2 separate regions of the Homo sapiens genome follow, and region 1 is linked to region 2. Evidence: fine-mapped expression QTL. A gene starts in region 2. The other region holds a variant in brackets. All regions are shown on one strand. Distances are between the middles of the regions. Region 1 overlaps EPHA10 (EPH receptor A10). Region 2 holds the start of AIRIM (AFG2 interacting ribosome maturation factor).

What was found. PIP is the estimated chance that this variant, and not a neighbour inherited with it, causes the effect. A credible set is the group of variants that fine-mapping cannot tell apart.
Region 1: its variant is the best candidate, but not a certain one, in a credible set for the expression of AIRIM in lymphoblastoid cells (GTEx, PIP 0.76).

The regions. Positions count from the first base shown.
Region 1 is chr1:37,717,123-37,725,122 of GRCh38, reverse strand. EPHA10 (EPH receptor A10) reads left to right here. Exons shown (of 17, transcript NM_001099439.2): 9 at 1,751-1,812; 10 at 1,957-2,082; 11 at 3,278-3,463; 12 at 4,279-4,340; 13 at 4,569-4,772; 14 at 5,065-5,214; 15 at 5,516-5,709; 16 at 6,307-6,462; 17 at 6,637-8,000. The coding sequence ends at 6,751. Among named protein-coding and RNA genes, the nearest start is that of CDCA8, 29 kb to the right of the region's middle. The variant T/C (reference allele first, on the strand shown) is at 3,348.
Region 2 is chr1:37,684,923-37,696,143 of GRCh38, reverse strand. It overlaps AIRIM (AFG2 interacting ribosome maturation factor), which reads left to right and starts at 5,615. Exons shown (of 5, transcript NM_001350770.2): 1 at 5,615-6,142; 2 at 6,261-6,538; 3 at 9,692-9,871. The coding sequence starts at 6,264. CDCA8 (cell division cycle associated 8) reads right to left here and starts at 3,628. Exons shown (of 10, transcript NM_001256875.2): 1 at 3,360-3,628; 2 at 3,111-3,239; 3 at 194-234. The coding sequence starts at 3,453. RefSeq lists enhancers at 2,847-3,355, 3,356-3,866, 3,905-4,094, 3,867-4,376, 4,377-4,887 and 3 more and silencers at 4,325-4,494, 4,515-4,574.

The DNA.
Region 1 (8,000 bases), 31 kb before region 2:
ATCACTGGCCCCTGGACTACTCACCACCAAACCTACAAACCTGCCTGCTTCTGCACCCATCCTCACCCCCTTTTCTCTAGAGGAGGTGATCCTCCCAGCCAGGATCAGTCCTTCCACCTATGGCTGAACCCCACCCTTTTGCCATCTTGGGAGCCCACTATTACTCCTAATGTTCCCCTCTGCCCCCCATAACAGTGAACATGTGTGGAGGCTTGGTAAGCTGACATGCTGCTGTCTGGCAGGCCTATCTTTATCCTGATTTTATTAAAGAGAAAATGGAGCCACCCAGTCCCACAGCTACCGAGCGGAGATGCTGGGAAGCAGGTCCCTGCAGTCAGGTTCCGAGCCCAGGCTGTCAACACCCTGCGGTGGCCGCTTCCCCCTGTGTGACAGCCTAGCTCCTCCTTCCCATCTGTATCTACATGTGATCATCTCTGTTGTGAAAACTTCGGAAACTCCTCCCTTGGTCTCTCATCCTTGTACCTTTATGTGATTTCTCTCTACCATCCCCTCTACTTTCTCTGTCCTTGGTCCCTGTGATACCCTGCCCCAGTTTCCCTCTGCTCTCCTTCTGTTCCTCTGGCGATTCTTTTGTACTGTCCTTGGTGCTTCCTTCCGCTAGCCTAGATGTTGGGGTTTCTCAGACTTATTCCTAGTCCCTCTTCTCAGACTCCATCCTCTCCCTGGGCCATGCTCATTGCTCCTGATTTGTATCTGCAGAGCAGGCCTCTCTTCCAAGCTCCAGACACACACACACACGTCGAACGCCCGTCTTATCTTCCCTGCTTATCCCCCAGGCCTGCAAACTCAGATGTCTAAATGTGAACTTTTTGTCTCCTCATCCCAGTAAATGGCACCACCATAAACTGTGGGCAACTTCTCCCTCTTCCTTTCTGCCATCCAACAACCTCTCAGCCCTGTGGCCCCTGTCACCTTCATGTCACTCGAGTCCTCTGCCTCTCTCCATGCCCATGTTGACCCCATAGCTAGAACCACTGCCAGCTCCTCTCCTGTGGTGACACCCGTGGCAGCTTCCACTCTGCAACTGGAGCTCTTTCTAAAGTAGAAATCAAATCATTGCACTCCTCTGCTTCAACCCCACAGGGGCTCTCCTCTGCTCCCAGAATAAAAGCCAAAGTCTTTATCTTGGCCAGCAAGGCCCTGCCCCTAGGGGCCCCAAGTACCGGCCTGTGGCTTTGTTGACTGTGATGCAGTCCTTTGGCCCGTGGCTGCCTCTGTCTCAGGAAGCCCTCCACAATGACCTTGGATCAGGTCAGGCCTGTCTGTCCCGTGTCCCAACAGTACAGCACCTTTCTCCTTTGCCAGCACTGGTGAGTGGGCTTGTGGCTAACTCTCCATGTTTGTTTTCCTGACCAGACCAGAAGCTGCCCCCGAGTGCTGGATCCGCTTGCCTTATTCACACTTTCACAAAACCGCATGCGGGGGCAGCTGGGGGCCTGCAGCCAGGATGTGGATTGGGTGCCTCTGGAGTTGCAATAATTTTCACCATGTGAAAGTAGCTAGGGATGGTGGTGGTGGTGACGGTTTGGTCTAGGGCTACGGTTGTATCTGTGCCATGGGGAGGTCGTCAAACCACAGAGAAGCTTTTAAACCAGCTGGACAAGAAGTTCCCTCCCCCAGGGCACAGGCCTTGTCTTTTGAAGGGACAAAGAGGTGCTGCCCTCAGTGCTCTGTAATGGGAAGGGCCGGGGTGGCCTGGCTGAAAGAATGACCCTGAACTCCCTGCCAGGCCCTGCAGCTATGGCAAAGGAGGAGGGGATGCCCATGATGAAGAGGAGCTGTATTTCCACTGTGAGTTGGCTGGGCCTGGCTGGGGAGGGGCGGGCTCCACCCTGCCTCACTCCTCAGCCCTCTGCCTTGCTACACTGCATGAGCCCGCTTGTCAGCCCCAGTGGTGGAGGCCCCATTCCTCAGGCTCATCTCTTTCTCTCCCAGTCAAAGTCCCAACACGTCGCACATTCCTGGACCCCCAGAGCTGTGGGGACCTGCTGCAGGCTGTGCATCTGTTCGCCAAGGAACTGGATGCGAAAAGCGTCACGCTGGAGAGGAGCCTTGGAGGAGGCAAGCTGGGCGCCCAGGAAGCCTTGTCCCCATCTGGAAGCCTCACCCACTCTATAGGCCCCGCCCCTACTCTGTCCACACCTCTATCCTGAAGCCCACCTCCACCCAGGTCTCTGCTCGTGTCTGGAAGCCCTGCCTCCACACCAAGCCCACCCTCCACCCAGAAAGTCCCTGGCTTGCCTGATTATAGGGAAGAGGATGGCAGAAGGGTCTGTGACCCTCTCCTGGTCCTCAAGGTCAGACCTCTGCACACTGCCACTGGCAGTTTAGTCCCAGGCCTTCATGGGGCAGTGGGGAGGGGCCTTTGCAAGCTTAGGGGCCAGACATAACTGAGTTCTAGTCCTGGCTCTCCCACTGACCCGCTGCATGATCAGGGTCATGGCCCTGTTTTGCTCAGAGCCTCAGTTTCTCATCTGAGAAATGGGCATGATATCTGCCTTCTGGGGGCTAATGTGGGGAACTCCCAGCACTCCTCACAGGGCCTGGCTGTCGGCGCTTGCTCTCTAAGGGCCAGTCTTCTGCTAGCCTTTCTTCCTGACTACAAATCCTCAGCCTCCTGTGCTCAGAGACGGTAGCTGCTTTCACTGGGAGCCTGACATTATCCCCTGACACTGTCTCCAGACCCGCTGGACAGAAGCCGGAAAGGGGCAGGGTGGAAGAATAGATGTCATTGTCATCCATCCTGGGTCACATGGGGTTTGATGGCAGTCGGCGTGCTGGCATATGCCCTGTCCTTTCTTTAAGGCTTGGAAACCTCCCCCCACTGAGGAAGGCAGAGAGGAATCCCCATTTCACAGAGGAGACAGGCCAAGAAAAGGAAAGAGATGGAATTCGAGGTCACACTGCTGGTACTCAGTTTACCAGGATTTAAGCTGGAAACAGTCCATGATCTGGAGTCACTTTTTTTTTTGAGACCGAGTCTTGCTCTGTCACCCAGTCTGAAGTGCAGTGGCACAATCTCAGCTCACTGAAACCTCTGCCTCCTGGGTTCAAGTGATTTTCCTGCCTCAGCTTCTCAAGTAGCTGGGATTACAGGCATGTGCCACCTTGTCTGGTTAATTTTTGTATTTTTAGTAGAGACTGGGTTTCGCCATGTTGGCCAGGCTGGTCAGAGTCACTTTCTCCTCGGCTCAGCCTGCCCAGCTCAGCCAGGGCAGTGGCCTCTGGCGGTATCTGAGGTGCTGTTTCCCCACAGGGCGGTTTGGGGAGCTGTGCTGTGGCTGCTTGCAGCTCCCCGGTCGCCAGGAGCTGCTCGTAGCCGTGCA[T/C]ATGCTGAGGGACAGCGCCTCCGACTCACAGAGGCTCGGCTTCCTGGCCGAGGCCCTCACGCTGGGCCAGTTTGACCATAGCCACATCGTGCGGCTGGAGGGCGTTGTTACCCGAGGTAGGGCCCGGTGCTCCCTTCCTGCTGCCCAGCCCACGGGTATGGGGGGTGGAAATGATGGTGTGGGAGTTTGGAGTGCCCCTGCCTCTCCAGGTCCTTCCCTCAGCTATGGGAGGGAGCTTCAGCCAGGGACCTCAGCTTTCACTGACTCAAGGCGGCCCTTCTCCTGGAGCGGCCACTCTGGCTCAGAATGACCTTTCTTTTCTTTCTTTCTTTCTTTTTTTTTTTTTTTGAGATGGAGTCTCGCTCTGTTGCCCAGGCTAGAGTGCAGTGGTGAGATCTCGGCTCACTGCAAGCTCTGCCTCCTGGGATCATGCCATTCTCCTGCCTCAGCCTCCCGAGCAGCTGGGACTACAGGTGCCTGCCACCAGGCCCGGCTAATTTTTTTGTTTTTTTTTTTTTTTAGTAGAGACGGGGTTTCACCATGTTAGCCAGGATGGTCTTGATCTCCTGACCTCGTGATCCACCTGCCTCGGCCTCCCAAAGTGCTGGGATTACAGGCGTGAACCACCGCGCCTGGCCAGGATGACCTTTCTGACCTGTGATAGGTCCCCTAGAATATCACTCCTAGAAAGAGTGATCTTTCTTAGCAAGCTTGTTGCAGCTCATGACCTTGGACTTTGTTCACCTACAGATGTCTCCTCTTTTGTTCCTTGGCATAGAGGACCCTGGGCTGGGCAGGAGGATGGCGAGATTAGGGAGCTTGGTGCTGGTTCTGGCTCTCGAGGCCCAGTCTGGGACCCTGGGGGGGAAACTTGTGTGCGTGCGGAGTGGAGTGGACAACTTAGCATGTGTGTTCCCATCCCTGGGCACAGGAAGCACCTTGATGATTGTCACCGAGTACATGAGCCATGGGGCCCTGGACGGCTTCCTCAGGGTGAGTGGCCCTGGGGCTGCCAATGACCACTTTATTCTGTAAAGCGGGCAGGGGTCCCTCACTTTTCTCTTTGGTAGGGCTTGGAATTGGCATCATCCCCACTGGCCGGGCTGACCTGTGGTCACAGGGTGAACTAAAGCCTGGCGAGAGCTAGGTGACCGCCCTGGTGTCACACAACACCAGGGGATCCAAGCGCACAGCCCTGGCCTCAGTCTTCTCCCTCCACAGCGGCACGAGGGGCAGCTGGTGGCTGGGCAACTGATGGGGTTGCTGCCTGGGCTGGCATCAGCCATGAAGTATCTGTCAGAGATGGGCTACGTTCACCGGGGCCTGGCAGCTCGCCATGTGCTGGTCAGCAGCGACCTTGTCTGCAAGATCTCTGGCTTCGGGCGGGGCCCCCGGGACCGATCAGAGGCTGTCTACACCACTATGGTGAGGGCGCCCCCAGCCAAGCCTGCCTGTGCCTTCTGGTTCCCACCAAGCTGCCCTGGAGCCCTTAACTCCCCACTTCTACTCCTTTCCCTGCCCCTCCACCCAGTTGGTCTTGGCATAAATGCGAGTGAACCCCACCTTGAGGTCAGCTTTTCTGTCTTTCCCAGATGTGAAGCTGGAGTTGGGGGTTGCCTGGGAGGATGACATGCAGGCTGGATCTGGGGCTCAGTGGGGTGGGGAAACCTGCGTGTCACCCAGTTCCTCCTTGCCCCTGACCTGCCTGCCCCTACAGAGTGGCCGGAGCCCAGCGCTATGGGCCGCTCCCGAGACACTTCAGTTTGGCCACTTCAGCTCTGCCAGTGACGTGTGGAGCTTCGGCATCATCATGTGGGAGGTGATGGCCTTTGGGGAGCGGCCTTACTGGGACATGTCTGGCCAAGACGTGAGTAACCCGTGGCTCCAGCTGCATGCCTTCTGACCCTCTCAGCTCAGGCCCCAGCTTCCTGACCTCTGCCCGTTGGCCCTCAATCTTCCTGCCTCAGGCCCCTCTTCTCTGTCTGCTTGCTTCTGGTTCTGCCTGGCCACTGCCCCAGGCTTCCTTGGGTGTGTGTGTGTGTGTCTGTGTCTGTGTGTGCGCATGTGTGTGTGTGTGTCTGTGTCTGTGTGTGTGCATGTGTGTGTGCACACACCATATGCTGGGGAAACCCAGAGCCTCCTCTCTGCTCCCCACCCCTGTGGCCCAGGTGATCAAGGCTGTGGAGGATGGCTTCCGGCTGCCACCCCCCAGGAACTGTCCTAACCTTCTGCACCGACTAATGCTCGACTGCTGGCAGAAGGACCCAGGTGAGCGGCCCAGGTTCTCCCAGATCCACAGCATCCTGAGCAAGATGGTGCAGGACCCAGAGCCCCCCAAGTGTGCCCTGACTACCTGTCCCAGGTACGTTCCCACATGGGACAGCCAGCCTCTCACCTGTCCGTGGAGGGCCTCCCTGCATGTTGCAAGTGCAAACCCACCGCCTCCACCACCCCACCTGTCCAAGAGCAATTGTTCACCCCATTGCCCCAGAGGGCTGTAGCCTGCCTGCCTGCCCAGGCCCACCTCACTGCACATCCTCCTGGTCACTTCTGCTTCTCCTGGATTTTGCCCACATCCCCGGGTACAATGACCTTTGACTGGAGAAATAGATGTGGTAATAGCCCTAACACATTTGTAGTTCCAATGAATCAAATATGTGAAATTAATATTCGTTGTTCCCAATATGAGTCACCAACCAGTCCTAGGCGTGTCCTACCCCAGACTGTTCCGGATACGCCAATACCTTTAGCTGGCGCTGGCTCTGCCTCCACCTGCCTGAAGAACCTGAAGCCCTCGCTTCTTCACGAATGCACAGTGCTCATGTGAGCCAGATCCAGCCCTGGGGCCCGGTTACCCTCCCCTTCTCCTGTCCATCCTCAGCTGGCCTCTCCCCGGGAGACCACCAGGTGTGGGCCCAGATCCCAGCTGTCGGTTGAGCACAGCTCCTCTGACCCGCAGGCCTCCCACCCCACTAGCGGACCGTGCCTTCTCCACCTTCCCCTCCTTTGGCTCTGTGGGCGCGTGGCTGGAGGCCCTGGACCTGTGCCGCTACAAGGACAGCTTCGCGGCTGCTGGCTATGGGAGCCTGGAGGCCGTGGCCGAGATGACTGCCCAGTGAGTCCAAGGCACCAAGGTCAAGGCCGGGGCTGGGGGATTCCACAGGCCCTGCCCCTGCCTATACTGGGGAGTCCCAACCTGTCCAGAGAAGCGGAGGGAGAGTGGAGGGCCTTCATGGGAGGAGCAGAAGTTGGGGACAAGCCAGCCGAGTGTGACCAGCCTTTGTTTCAGGGACCTGGTGAGCCTAGGCATCTCTTTGGCTGAACATCGAGAGGCCCTCCTCAGCGGGATCAGCGCCCTGCAGGCACGAGTGCTCCAGCTGCAGGGCCAGGGGGTGCAGGTGTGAGTGGACCCCATTCTTCCAAGGCAGGACTCCGGTGGGGGTCCAGTCCCCCAGCCCTGCCCAAGGACCGTGGCAAGCTGCGCTCCAGCAGTGTGGGAGGGAGCGCTCTCTTCCTCTGCTTGGGCCCAGATCTGGTGGGGCCACAGCTTCCCCGCTTTCACTGCCTGCCCCTCCCATTTTCACGAGTCTGAACGCCTTGGCTAACTCAGTGCCCCTGAAAAGAGGTTCAAATCCCTAGGGAGGACCCCTGAGATAACAGCAGGAGGAAATTCGGGGTCTCAGAGAAAAGCTGGGGCAGGGATGGGAGGGAAGACAGTGGGTTGAGATTGCCCTGGCTCATGCCCTACTGCCATTTGTACCCACTGGGGGCTGGGGCCTACCCCGTGGGGTGTTCCCTTTTCCCACAGACCCATTGACCAGTCAGACAGCGTGGGTCCTGGGGGGGTCTTCTTCTACCTGGCAGTGACTGCAGCTGCCTGGTGGCTCAGGCGTCGGGGGCTGGGCCAGAGGTGCATCCACCTCAGCTCCCTGTGCCTTGGCAGGGGCTGACTGGACACTGGCCAAGGCTCAGGCAGGCAAAGATGGTGCTGAGCTCAGGGGCTGATACCCAAGAGCCCTAGACTCAGGATCTGGTTTCTGTGTCCCCCTGCCTTGGGCTGACAGTTCAGGGTGAGGCCAAAAGTCCTGGCCAGGCCGGGCCATGAGAGGCCCTGGTGCTCCCTGGGGCCCCATGAGGCCCTCGTGTGCATTCCTTTTATGAACTTAGTGGCCAGGACATCTGGGAAAAGCATAAAGGGCCATGTTATCTCCCCAGGGACCCAAGAGCTTTTCTCTCCAGCCATGGGGAGGGTGAAGAGGAGACTCAGAGATGGGTCCTCTCTCTCAAACAGGCTGGTCTAACCCCCAGTGTACAGATGGGGGAAACTGAGGCCAAGTGAGGAGTCAGGAGCAGAGCTGAGGTCAGAACCCAATCCAGGGGTAAGGCTGGCTCTGGGGAGAGAGTCCTTGGTCCTGCCCTATGGCACCACCACTTCCCTGTACAGCCCTTGGGGACTCTAGAGGCGACTCCCCTCCAGCCAGCTCCGTGCCTTGGGCACTACCCAGCCTTCCATGGAGCCCCTCCCTGCTCTGACTTTGAAGAGCCCTGGCAGAAGTGGTTGTGCTGAGCCCACCGTGGAGTTCCTTATCCACAAGGGCCCCCGGGAATGGTGGGGCCCAGTATGCCAGAGCTTTCGTAGGGTGGCAGGAAGGC
Region 2 (11,221 bases):
CCACCTTCTGTAGGGCTCAGAACTATCTGGGTCTCATGTATACAGTGTCTGGTCCAACTCTAATTTTTCAGTTGACACAAACAGATGATGTCCCTTTATGAAACCTCTTCCACAGTAAGCATCTATTAGTTGGATCTGGGGACTGGACTAGACTTAAGTAACCACTGGCTGGAAAATAGGAAAGGTCACTTACTGTTGCCGCCTCTTCCAGGGCCTGTTTGTTTCCTCCAAGGGCTTTAAAAAGAACGTTGTAGTTACTATTACATTTTAACAATAAATCATCTTGCCTAATAGTACCATTTATCTTTCTAAAACTGGTCCAGCCCTTGGTCTAACCTTCAAGGACCTTCACCATCTAATCTATTCTTTCTCCAAGTTATATCCCAAATGTGCCACTGACTCTCATGACTTGTTGCCATGGTACTTTGTATTTCCTCTGCCTGAAATTCACCTCCGTACTTAACAAATTTCTAACTCATCCTTCAAAACTCAGCTCAAACATCACCCCAAAAATTCTGCTTATTTTTCTTTTTAAAAAATATATTTTAAATTTTATTTATTTTTGAGACAGAGTCTTGCTCTGTCACCCAAGCTGGAGTGGAGTGGCGCCTCCTTGGCTGTCTCCTGGGCTCAACTGATCCTCCCACCTTGGCCTCCCAAGTAGCTGGGACTACAGGCATGCGCCACCACATTCGGCTAATTTTTGTGTTTTTTTGTAGAGATAGGGTTTCGCCAAGTTGTCCAGGTTGTCTTTTTTTTTTTTTTTTTTTTTTTTAAGTAGAGATGTGGTCTCCTGCTATGTTGCCCAGGCTGGTTTTGAACTCCTGGGGTCAAGTGATACTCCTGCCTTGGCCTCCCAAAGTGCTAGGATTATAGGCATGAATCCCCACCCTATGCCCTGCCCTCTGCTTATTTTTCTTTTTTAAAAATTTATTTTTAATTATTTTTTTTAAAGCTTAAAGATATGGTCTTGTTATGTTGCCCAGGCTGGTCTCAAATTCCTGGGCTCAAGTAATCCACCTGCCTTGGCCTCCCAAAGTGCTGGAATTCCAGGTGAGCCACTGTGCCCAGCCTGCTTATTTTTCTATCTCAGCAGTTTGCTGCAAAGTGTAGAGTTAGTTGCTCACCCTCATTATACCCAATAACTACTCAAAGCTGTTTAAATGTCCATCCCTGCCTTGGACTGAATTCCAGAGATGACATCCTTTGCTTCTGGCAAAAATCTAGCAGTCAATAGATGTACAGTAAACGTGTTGAATGAAAAGGTCTTTGTGAGATTTACATGTAGAATAAAAAGTTAGGTTAGAACCTCCTGCTAGAAACTCTCATAGTATCTTGTAAAACAGTTAAGATCTCAGGCTATGAAACCAGAATACCTGGGTTCAAACAGACTATCCCACTAACTAGCTTATGAGGCCTTGAGCAAAGTGTCCAATTTCTCTGTGCCTTAATCTTGTCATTTTGAAAAATAGGGATATTATTAGTTATGAAGAAAAATTAGTTAATGTATGTAAAACACTTGGTACAATGCCCATCTGGCATAGAAAGCACAATATGCTCACTGACCACTACTCTATTCTATCTCCTTTGTAGTACCTATACTTTTAATTACATAATTGTATGTGGATTTTTCTAATAGCTCTTTTCTACTAATCTGTATGTTCCTGAAGGCAGAGACAATGTCTGTTTTATTCCCTAGTGCATCTTTAGCACCTAGCACTGTGACTGACACATGCTCAGTATTTGGAGAAATAAGCAAATGAATGGCTTAATAAATAAAAGGGCAAGTCAAAAGGATCATTCAATGTCTAATATGTGAGCAGACCATGCATTTCTATCCAGGAAGGAGACTACATGCTGGATAGTTAATAATAAGGAAAACAGAAAAGGGCAACCCAGCAGAAAAGTACAGCCTCCTGCATTTCTCCGGACATTTAATAAGGGAGTGCAGAAACAGGCTGGGATTTTTCTCTGGCCAGGAAAACTGATGTGTCTTTTTTTTTGAGACGGAGTTTCACTCTTGTTGCCCAGGCTGGAGTGCAATGGCGTGCTCTCAGCTCACCGCAACCTCTGCCTCCCAGGTTCAAGCGATTGTCCTGCCTCAGCCTCCAGAGTAGCTGGGATTAGAGGTATGCGCCACCACGCCCGGCTAACTTTTTTGTATTTTTAGTAGAGACAGGGTTTCTCCATGTTGGTCAGGCTGGTCTCGAACTCCTGACCTCAGGTCATCTGCCCGCCTCAGCCTCCCAAAGTGCTGGGATTACAGGCGTGAGCCACCACGCCCAGCCTGATGCGCCCATTTTTAGGTTAGCAATTTCCATAAGCTGCAGAAGGAGCTGCTTCGGGTTATTCTTCTATCTGAGCTCTGGTTAACTAACCATGTCATTTATTCATTCATTTTTAAATGGGTAAAATATACATATATTTTTAAAAATACTATTTTCTGGCCGGGCGCAGTGGCTGACTCCTGTAATCCCAGCACTTTGGGAGGCCTATGTAGGTGGATCACTTGAGGTCAGGAGTTCGAGACCAGCCTGGCCAACATGGTGAAACCCCGTCTCTACTGAAAATACAAAAATCAGCGGGGCATGGTGGCAGGCGACCGTAATCCCAGCCACTCCAGAGGCTGAGGCAGGAGAATCACTTGAACCCAGAAGGTGGAGGTTGCAGTGAGCAGGGATCGCACCACTGCACTGCACTGCACTCCAGCCTGGGTGACAGAGTGAGACTCTGTTTAAAAAAAATTAAATAAATTTCCTGATGTGTGAAAATTATGTGAAATTCACATTTCAGTGTATCCATAACTAAAATTTTATTGGAATACAGCCCATCCATGCCCATTCACTACAGCTGTTTTGGACCTGTAAACAGCAGAGCTGAGTTGTCCGACAGAGACCGCCCCGCCCGCCGCCCCCCAACCACCCCCCCATTTTTCATAGAGAAAAATGAAGTAGGGAAGTGAGACAGAGAGTGAAAGGGTCTGCAATTTTCCATAAGTGGTCATGTCAGATCTCATTAAAAGGTGACATCTGAGCGAGCCCTTTCTGAAGGGTGTCACCTAACCCCAAGGGGCTCCTGGCCTCCGCCCAGGGAAGCTCTCCAGCTCTTACCGAAGTAGTCAAGCCAGTTCATCTCGCGCAGAGCCTTGGGGAGCCGCAGGATCTCGATGTTGTAGAGGTTATCCACCTCCTTGAGGAGGTTCTGCCTGTCTGACTCAATTTGCTTGATTCGTATTTCCACTGCGGGAGGGCAGAGCCGACAGGACACGGGTCACGGGCGGGCGAATCTGTGCAGCTCGTGTCCCCACCCGCCAGCATCCCGCGACCGCCCCAGGAGGCCGCGACGGCCTGGCCCCTTACCTTCACGGTCGAAGTCTTTCAGAAAGGAGGCGAGCTTCCGCCTCCGTAAGGAGTTGGTCTTGGCCACCCGACTACTGCCCTTCCTAGGAGCCATGGCGCTCGGCGGAGGCTGCGGGGAGCGGCGGAGATGGGGCAGGGAAGCAAGAAACTGGGTAGGGACGAGGAGGGCGGACGGGGACCACCCGAAGAAGTCGCCAGGCACGTACCTGCGGTCCCGAGACAAGGGCTGAGCAAAACCTCGCTGTGCCAGTGAGAGAGAGCGGCTCTACAGTCAACCGCCACCCAATTCAAACTCCACAGTCACAGGCTGACGAATGAGAAGCCGCCGTCCCACAACATCCAATCACAAGCAAGTTCCTGCCGGCCCAGGGTCTTCCGCCCAATGCGCCCCCTATAGCCTGAGTGCGACAGCGAGGCCGCCGCCGTCGCGGGTACTCCTGGGAGTTGTGGTCCAGGCTTGTTTCCCCGCCCTCCCCACCAACCCACCCGGCTCCGCCCTGGCCGGCTGCGAACTATACAAACTACTACTCCCGGCAGGCCTTGTGGCGGCTCTGCAATACCCCAAGCTCTGGAGGGCTGGGGGCCTACTAGGTCAGGTCGGCTGTAGGATTCTGCTCCAGGGTTGGCGGCTGCTTCTTTCTGGCCTGGCTGCCACTGAGTAGCCGAGGGGCCGCCGTGACCCTCTGACTGATTGACTGGCTGGCTGCCTACGTCGGCGCTCCTCAGGGCCCCAAGCTCCTCAGGCCGAACTTCGGGCAAGTGGCGGGTCGGCAGAGACAGAGCAGCCCCGGCAGGGTTTGACAGAGCAAGGGGGACGGAATGATAGAGGAGCAGGGCAGGGGTGCAGGCTTTGGGGGGGGCGCGCTATCCCGCGGCCAGTCTGGGCAGCGAGTGGGGGGAACCCTGTCGTTCCTCGCTCCCCCGCGGGCCGGCCACTCCCGCCCAGTTCGCGTGTTGGCGCCTCGACTGGGTGCGCAGCGCGGGGCTGCGACTTCAGGTGCAAGTAGTGGCGCTTGGCAGCTGGCCACACGGTGACTGCAGCATGAGCCGCGGCCACCAGGCTCCAGGGAGCCCAGGGCAGGAGGCAGCTCTGGGTGTCGTGGCCGTGGGCCTGGGAATGGGCGTGTAGACGGCGAGCCCCGCCGAGCCGCGGTCCTGTCGGAGGTGCTAACTGTGCATCTTGGTATCTGCCCACGGCCACAGGGTTGGATTGCTCAAGAGTTGTGCTGAGACCCAGAAGGCTAGAGGCTAGTTTCGAAGCTGTAGCTCAGGCTGAGTCTCAAGGCGGGCGGCGACTGGACGGCCAGACCGGCGAGCTCTTGACGGGTTTGTGGCCTGATTGTTTGGATTTGGTGCTTTTCACCTGTGGATGCGGTCTGAAGCCATGTCAGAGGGGTTGTGTTTAAGCGTGCATGTTATAGGCTATGGGAGTGATAATCTTGCCTCTCCCCCTCTGAGTTGAGGAACAATCGAAGAAATAAGCAAAGGTGCCAAGCAGGCTCCTGATGGGCACCAGCGAGCTTGGGGACAGAGCAGTCCAAGCATAGAAGTCCTGGCAAGCCTGGACCTTCCTGGAAAGTCCTTTCTCTCTCTTCCACCCTGGTCTGTTGCTCCATATGCAACAAATATTTGAATGTCGCTCTTCCGCCCGAGGTCAGCCCTGGGCAGTGGGTAGTGGGGGTGACACCCCAGTCTGCTGGGTGCCTGAGGATCTCCATCAGTCAGATGGCCAAGATGAGACGGGATGACAACCCGTACCTCATGTAGGCTTTCCCCCTGCAGGTGTTTTTATGCTGCGCAAGTCGGGCTTCCAGCCTCTCGGTTTCAGGGTTTCCTTCACCCTACTCCCCAGTGAGCCCGAACTCCCTGGGCACCTAGGACGTCCACCTGCATTTTAGCCAGAGCTGCCACGTCAGGAGCCCGTGATTTACTAGTTTTTGCCAGTTGGTTGTGATACACAATGTCAAAAGTGTCATTAAGGCACAACCGGAGGCGCAAGATAAGAGGAAAAGACTCCACAGCTAACAGGACATGCCACCACCGCCACCCAATTTAAACTGCCGCAGGCTGACAAATGAGAAGTCGCCGTGTTTGGACGGTCCCAACATCCAATCCCAAGGAAGCTTCAAGCCGAGTGGCCAGTCCACATGTTGGACTACAGTACCCAGAAGTCATTGCGGCACTACGATATATTTTCGCGACTCAGTAGCCAGGCAGGCCCGCGGAGTAGCTTTGTGGGGAGGTCGCGTGTGAGCATGCGCAGAGAGACTGTGGGCGCGTGGTGCAGTCCCTGGAGGGTTCTCACGCTTTGGCTGTCTGGACTTTTAAGTTTTTCCGCTTTTTCAGGAAGGCGACCGGCAGCCTCGGGCAGGGGAGACAGGACTGTATGTCAGAGAAGAGACGGCGCTTGGACGCCAGGAATCCTCTGAAGCAGGAGACTGCCCTATCCAGGTTACCCTTCCCGAGGGGAAACCAGGGTCTCCTTCAGAAAGCTGAGGCAGGCCGGGCGCGGTGGCTCACGCCTGTAATCCCAGCACTTTGGAAGACCGAGGCGGGCGGATCACCTGAGGTCAGGAACCCCGTCTACTAAAAATACAAAAATTAGCCAGGCGTGTTGGCGGGCACCTGTATTCCCAGCTACTCGGGAGGCTGAGGCAGGAGAATTGCTTGAACCCGGGATGCGGAGGTTGCAGTGAGCCGAGATAGCGCCACTGCACTCCAGCCTGGGCGACAGTGAGACTCCGTCTCGAAAAAAAAACAAAAAAAAAACCCTGCTTCTGGAGGTGAGACAACTCCTGTCTGAACACGATAACAGAGATGACGCCCACCCTCGACCCAGTGCCTCCCCGACTGACTTGGCACCCCAACGTGGTTATTTTCTGTTTTTATCTTTTTCAGCAGAAGATGACTCAAGACCGGCCTCTGCTTGCCGTGCAGGAGGCGCTGAAGAAGTGCTTCCCCGTGGTGGAGGAGCAGCAGGGCCTGTGGCAGAGTGCCCTGCGGGACTGCCAGCCCCTCCTGTCCTCCCTCAGCAACCTGGCGGAACAGCTGCAGGCCGCACAGAACCTGCGGTTTGAGGATGTGCCGGCGCTTCGGGCCTTCCCAGATTTAAAAGAGCGGCTGAGGCGTAAGCAGCTGGTGGCTGGTGACATCGTCCTGGACAAGCTAGGGGAAAGGCTGTAAGCAGCTCCCTAGTGCTGTTTCTTGGTGGAAGGATTTTAAAACGAGGTGTTTTATATGTAGCTAGTGTCAGTCCAGAAGGTGTTTTTCTCCTTGAAAGCGTGGCATGTGGAGGTATCTCAACCTTCCTTACTTCATCTGGGGCAGTGGGACCTCGGTCAGAAAGCCATTTTCTGGCATTTTCTTTGTCAGAGACTAGGCATGGCAGTGGTGGGCTTAGTAGAAGTCACAAAAGAAGAAGAGAAAAGGAGCGGAGAAAGCCTATTAGCTCTGCCCTATAGTTTTCTTTGGTAAAAGGCAGTGAGGAGCTGTGTAAACTTAGTAGGTGCTAGAGCTAAGGGGTTTATGTATATTACGTTATAAAGTCTCTTCAACATATCTGTGACTTAACTGCACTTAATTCTATGCAGGTAGGAAACTGAAGCTTAAGCAGATTGCCCATGGTGACGCAGCTAGAAAAGGGTAGAGCTGGGATTCTAACTCAAGTGTGCCTGACACAAAGGCTAGAGCTCTTAATCACCACTTTGTTCTGCTGTAGATTGGTGTCTCTGTGCCCAGGAGTAGCACGTCTCCAAGTTCTGATATGCTTGTTGTCAGACCCAGTGCCTGCGTTACAGATTTTTTTTTTTTTTTTTTTTTGAGACAGGGTCTTGCTCTGTCACTCAGGCTGGAGTGCAGTGGCACAATCACAGCTCATTGTAGCCTCGATTTCCCTGGTTCAAGCGATCCTCCCACCTCAGCCCCCCAAGTACCTGGGACAACAAGCGTGCACTTCCATGCCCAGCTAATTTTAAAATTTTTTGTAGAGATAGGGTCTCACTATGTTGCCCAGGCTGAGAGTTACAGGTTATTGAGGACAGAGGGGAGACAGGGCATGTGTGGCCTTTCCTTGAACTGGAACAAAAGAAAGTTCCAGTATATAGAGTCTGTCATAGACTAATAGGAAACTGTCACAGATGAGGACTTTCCTTTTATTTATTTGTACAAAATACGTTCATTAGGCACCTTGTGGGATGCCAAGCACAAGGTGCCAAGAATATAAAAATGAACCAGATTTAGTTCCTGTTCTTAGTTGAGTAGAAGAAATAAACAATCAGTGAATTAAATTGTGGGATGTCCTAAGATATTGATAAGTACGGCTTGTGTGGAGTGGGGAAGTTTCTGGGGAGGAAGTGATATTAAAAACCTAATGGTTGAAAAGATGTAAACAGAGTCAAGACGTGGGTATGAGTAGTGTGCATAGAGAATAGTATGACTGGCCCGGCACGGTGGCTTATGGCTGTAATCCCAGCACTTTGGGAGGCAGATCACTTGAGGTCAGGAGTTCGAGACCAGCCTGGCCAACATGGTGAAACACCATCTCTACTAAAAATAAAAAAAGTTAACTGGCTGTCGTGGCACACACCTGTAGTCCCAGCTAAAGGGGAGGCTGAGGCAGGAGAATCTCTTGGACCTGGGAGGCAGAGGTTGCAGTGAGCCAAGACTGTCCCACTGCACTCCAGCCTGGGTGACAGAGCAAGACTCTGTCTCAAAAAAAGAGAGAAAAGTATGACAGGAGCAGAGGCCTGGTAAGAGATGAGATCAGCTGGGTATGGCAGCTCAGCCTGTAATCCCAGCACTTAGGGAGGCTGAGGCAGGAGGATCGCTTGAGCCTAGAAGTTTGAGACCAGCCTGGGCAACATAGTGAGATCCCATTCTCCATGAAAAGGAAAGCAAAACAAAAAAAAGATGAGGCCAGGTACGGTGCCTCACTCCTGTAATCCCAGCACTTTGAGAGGCTAAGGACAAGAGGATCATTTGAACCCAGGAGTGCTGTGAGTACCTATGAGTGCTTTACTTAATATTTTGTCTTTTATTTATTTTTATTTTATTTTTAGAGACAGTCTCACCCTGTTGCCCAGGCTGAAGTGCAGCGGTATGATCATAGCTTACTGTAGCCTCTAACTCCTCCTGCCAGCCTCCTGAGTAGCTGGGATTCCAAGAGCATGCCACCATACCTAGCTAATTTTTAAAATTTTTTGTGGAGATAGTCTTGCCATATTGCCCAGGCTGGTCTCAAATTCCTGGCTTCAAGCTGTCCTCTGGCCTTGCCCTCCCAAACTACTGGGATTACAGGCATGCCACTGCACCTGTTTTTTTTTTTAAATGTTTTAATTAAAAAAAAATATATATTAGCTGGGCACGGTGGCTCATGCCTGTAATCCTAACACTTTGGGAGGCCGAGGTAGGTGGATCACCTGAGGTCGGGAGTTCGAGACCAGCCTGACCAACATGGAGAAACCCCGTCTCTACTGAAAAAAAAATACAAAATTAGCCGGGTGTGGTGGCGCATGCCTGTAATCCCAGCTACTCAGGAGGCTGAGGCAGGAGAATCACTTGAACCCGGGAGCCAGAGGTTGTGGTGAGCCAAGATCGCACCATTGCACTCCAGCCTGGGCGACAAGAACGAAACTCCATCTCAATAAAAAAACAAAAAACAAAAACAAAAACTATACACACACACACACACACACACACACACACACACACACACACACACACACACTTTTGAGACGGAGTCTCGCTCTGTCACCCAGGTTGAAGTGCAGTGACGCGAACTTGGCTCACTGCAACCTCTGCCTCTGGGTTCAAGTGATTCTCGTGCCTCCCGAGTAGCTGGGTCTACAGGTGTGCACCACCACACCTGGCTAATTTTTGTATATTTAGTAGAGACGGGGTTTTGGGACATTGGCTGGTCTCAAACTCCTGACCTCAGGTGATCCACCCCGCTCAGCCTCCCAAAGCTGGGATTACAGGCAACAGCCTCTGCACCCAGCCCCTTTCTTGATTCTTGAGCCACCCGTACCTCCAAGACACTGTCACTAATCTCCTTAGACCAGTGGTCTCAATTGGAGATGGTTTTTCTATGAGGGGACATTTGGCATCATCTAGAGGCATTATTGGTTGTTATGGCTTATGGAGGGTATAGGTATAGTTTACACCTGTCATTTAGTGGGTAGGGGCCAGGCATGCTCCTACACGTCCTACAATGTACAGGGCAGCCCTTCACAACAGAGAATCATGTAGTCCAAAATATCAGTAGTGCCAAAATTGAGAAACCTTCCTTTATACATGTCTCATGATATTGCCTAATGTCAGACTCTTTCTTGCAGAGCCATCCTCCTCAAGGTGCGAGACATGGTCAGCAGCCATGTGGAGCGAGTGTTTCAGATCTATGAGCAACACGCAGACACAGTTGGCATTGATGCTGTCCTGCAGCCTTCAGCAGTGAGCCCCTCTGTGGCTGACATGTTGGAATGGTTGCAGGATATTGAGAGACATTATCGAAAGTCGTATCCTTTGCACACATTTCAGGTCACAGCCAGAGCTGTTCTAAGTCTTTCAAATTTCAGTTTTCACAAGATTGGAAAACTAAGTAGTTTGAGTCAGTTCTCTTTGGTTCCTGAACTTGGATTCTTCCTGCATTCCTTTGTATAATCCTTCCTCTAATAATTTATCGAGTAGCTACTACCTGTCAGGCACTGTTCTTGGTGCAAAGAGACAGGCATTGAAAAAGGCAAGTAGAATGCTGAATGGCGATAAGTGTTATGGAGAAAAATAAAGCAGGGAAAGTGAGGAGTGAGGGTGGAGTTGTGATTTAAAATAGGGTGGTCAGAGCAGGCTTCATGAGAAAGTGATATTTGAGCAGAGATCTGAAGAGGGTAAGGGAAAGAGCTATGTGGCTATTTGGGGAGAGAAAGTTACTAGGCAGAGGAAACATCAAATGCAAAGGCCTTGTGGTAAGAACATTCCTGGTCTATTCAGGAAATAGTAAGGAGGCTAGACTGGAGCATGAGGAGGAGCCTAACAGCAGGTGAGGGTAGAAAGACAGGGGGCTCGACTTTCTAGGGCCTTGAAGGTCTTTGAAAGAATTTGGGGTCTGGGCGTGGTGGCTCACACCTGTAATCCCAGCCCTTTGGGAAGCTGAGGTGGGAGGACTGCTTGAGCCCGAGAGTTTGAGACCAGCCTGGGCAACATGGTGAAACGCCGTCTCTACAAAAAATACAAAAATTAGCCAGGCATGGTGGTATGTGCCTGAAGTCTGTAATCCCAGCTACTCGGGAGGGTGAAGCTGGAGGATTGCTTGAACTGGGGGAGGTCAAGGCTGCAGTGAGCTGAGATCGTGCCACTGCACTCCAGCCTGGGTGATAAAGTGAAACTCTGTCTCCAAAAAAAAAAAAAAGAATTTTGGGCCAGGCATGATGGTGTGCAGCTATAGTCCCAGCTACTCAGGAGGCTGAGGTGGGAGGGTTGCTTGAGCGTGGGAGGTCAAGGCTGCAGTGAGCCTTGATTGCCAGCCTGGGTGTGATCACCAGCCTAGGTGACAGAGCAAGACCCTGTCTCAAACCACCCCCCGCCCACCCCCCCCCCCCAAAAAAAAGCATTCGAGTGACAGAAAAACCTCTTAGAAACTTGATTAAGGAGTAACAGGATAAGACCTATGTTTTTAACAGTATCATTCTGGCTTCGTTCTAGGGTAAGATTTGGGGTAGTGGGGGCAAGGGTAAAAGCAGAAAGACCAGTTAGTTGAAGCTCTAACATTTTTCTCTCAAAAAAATTTTTTTTTTGCCTAGGAGATGGGGTCTTGCTGTGTTGACCAGGCTGGTCTTGAACTCCTGGCCTTGATGATCCTACCTCCTTGG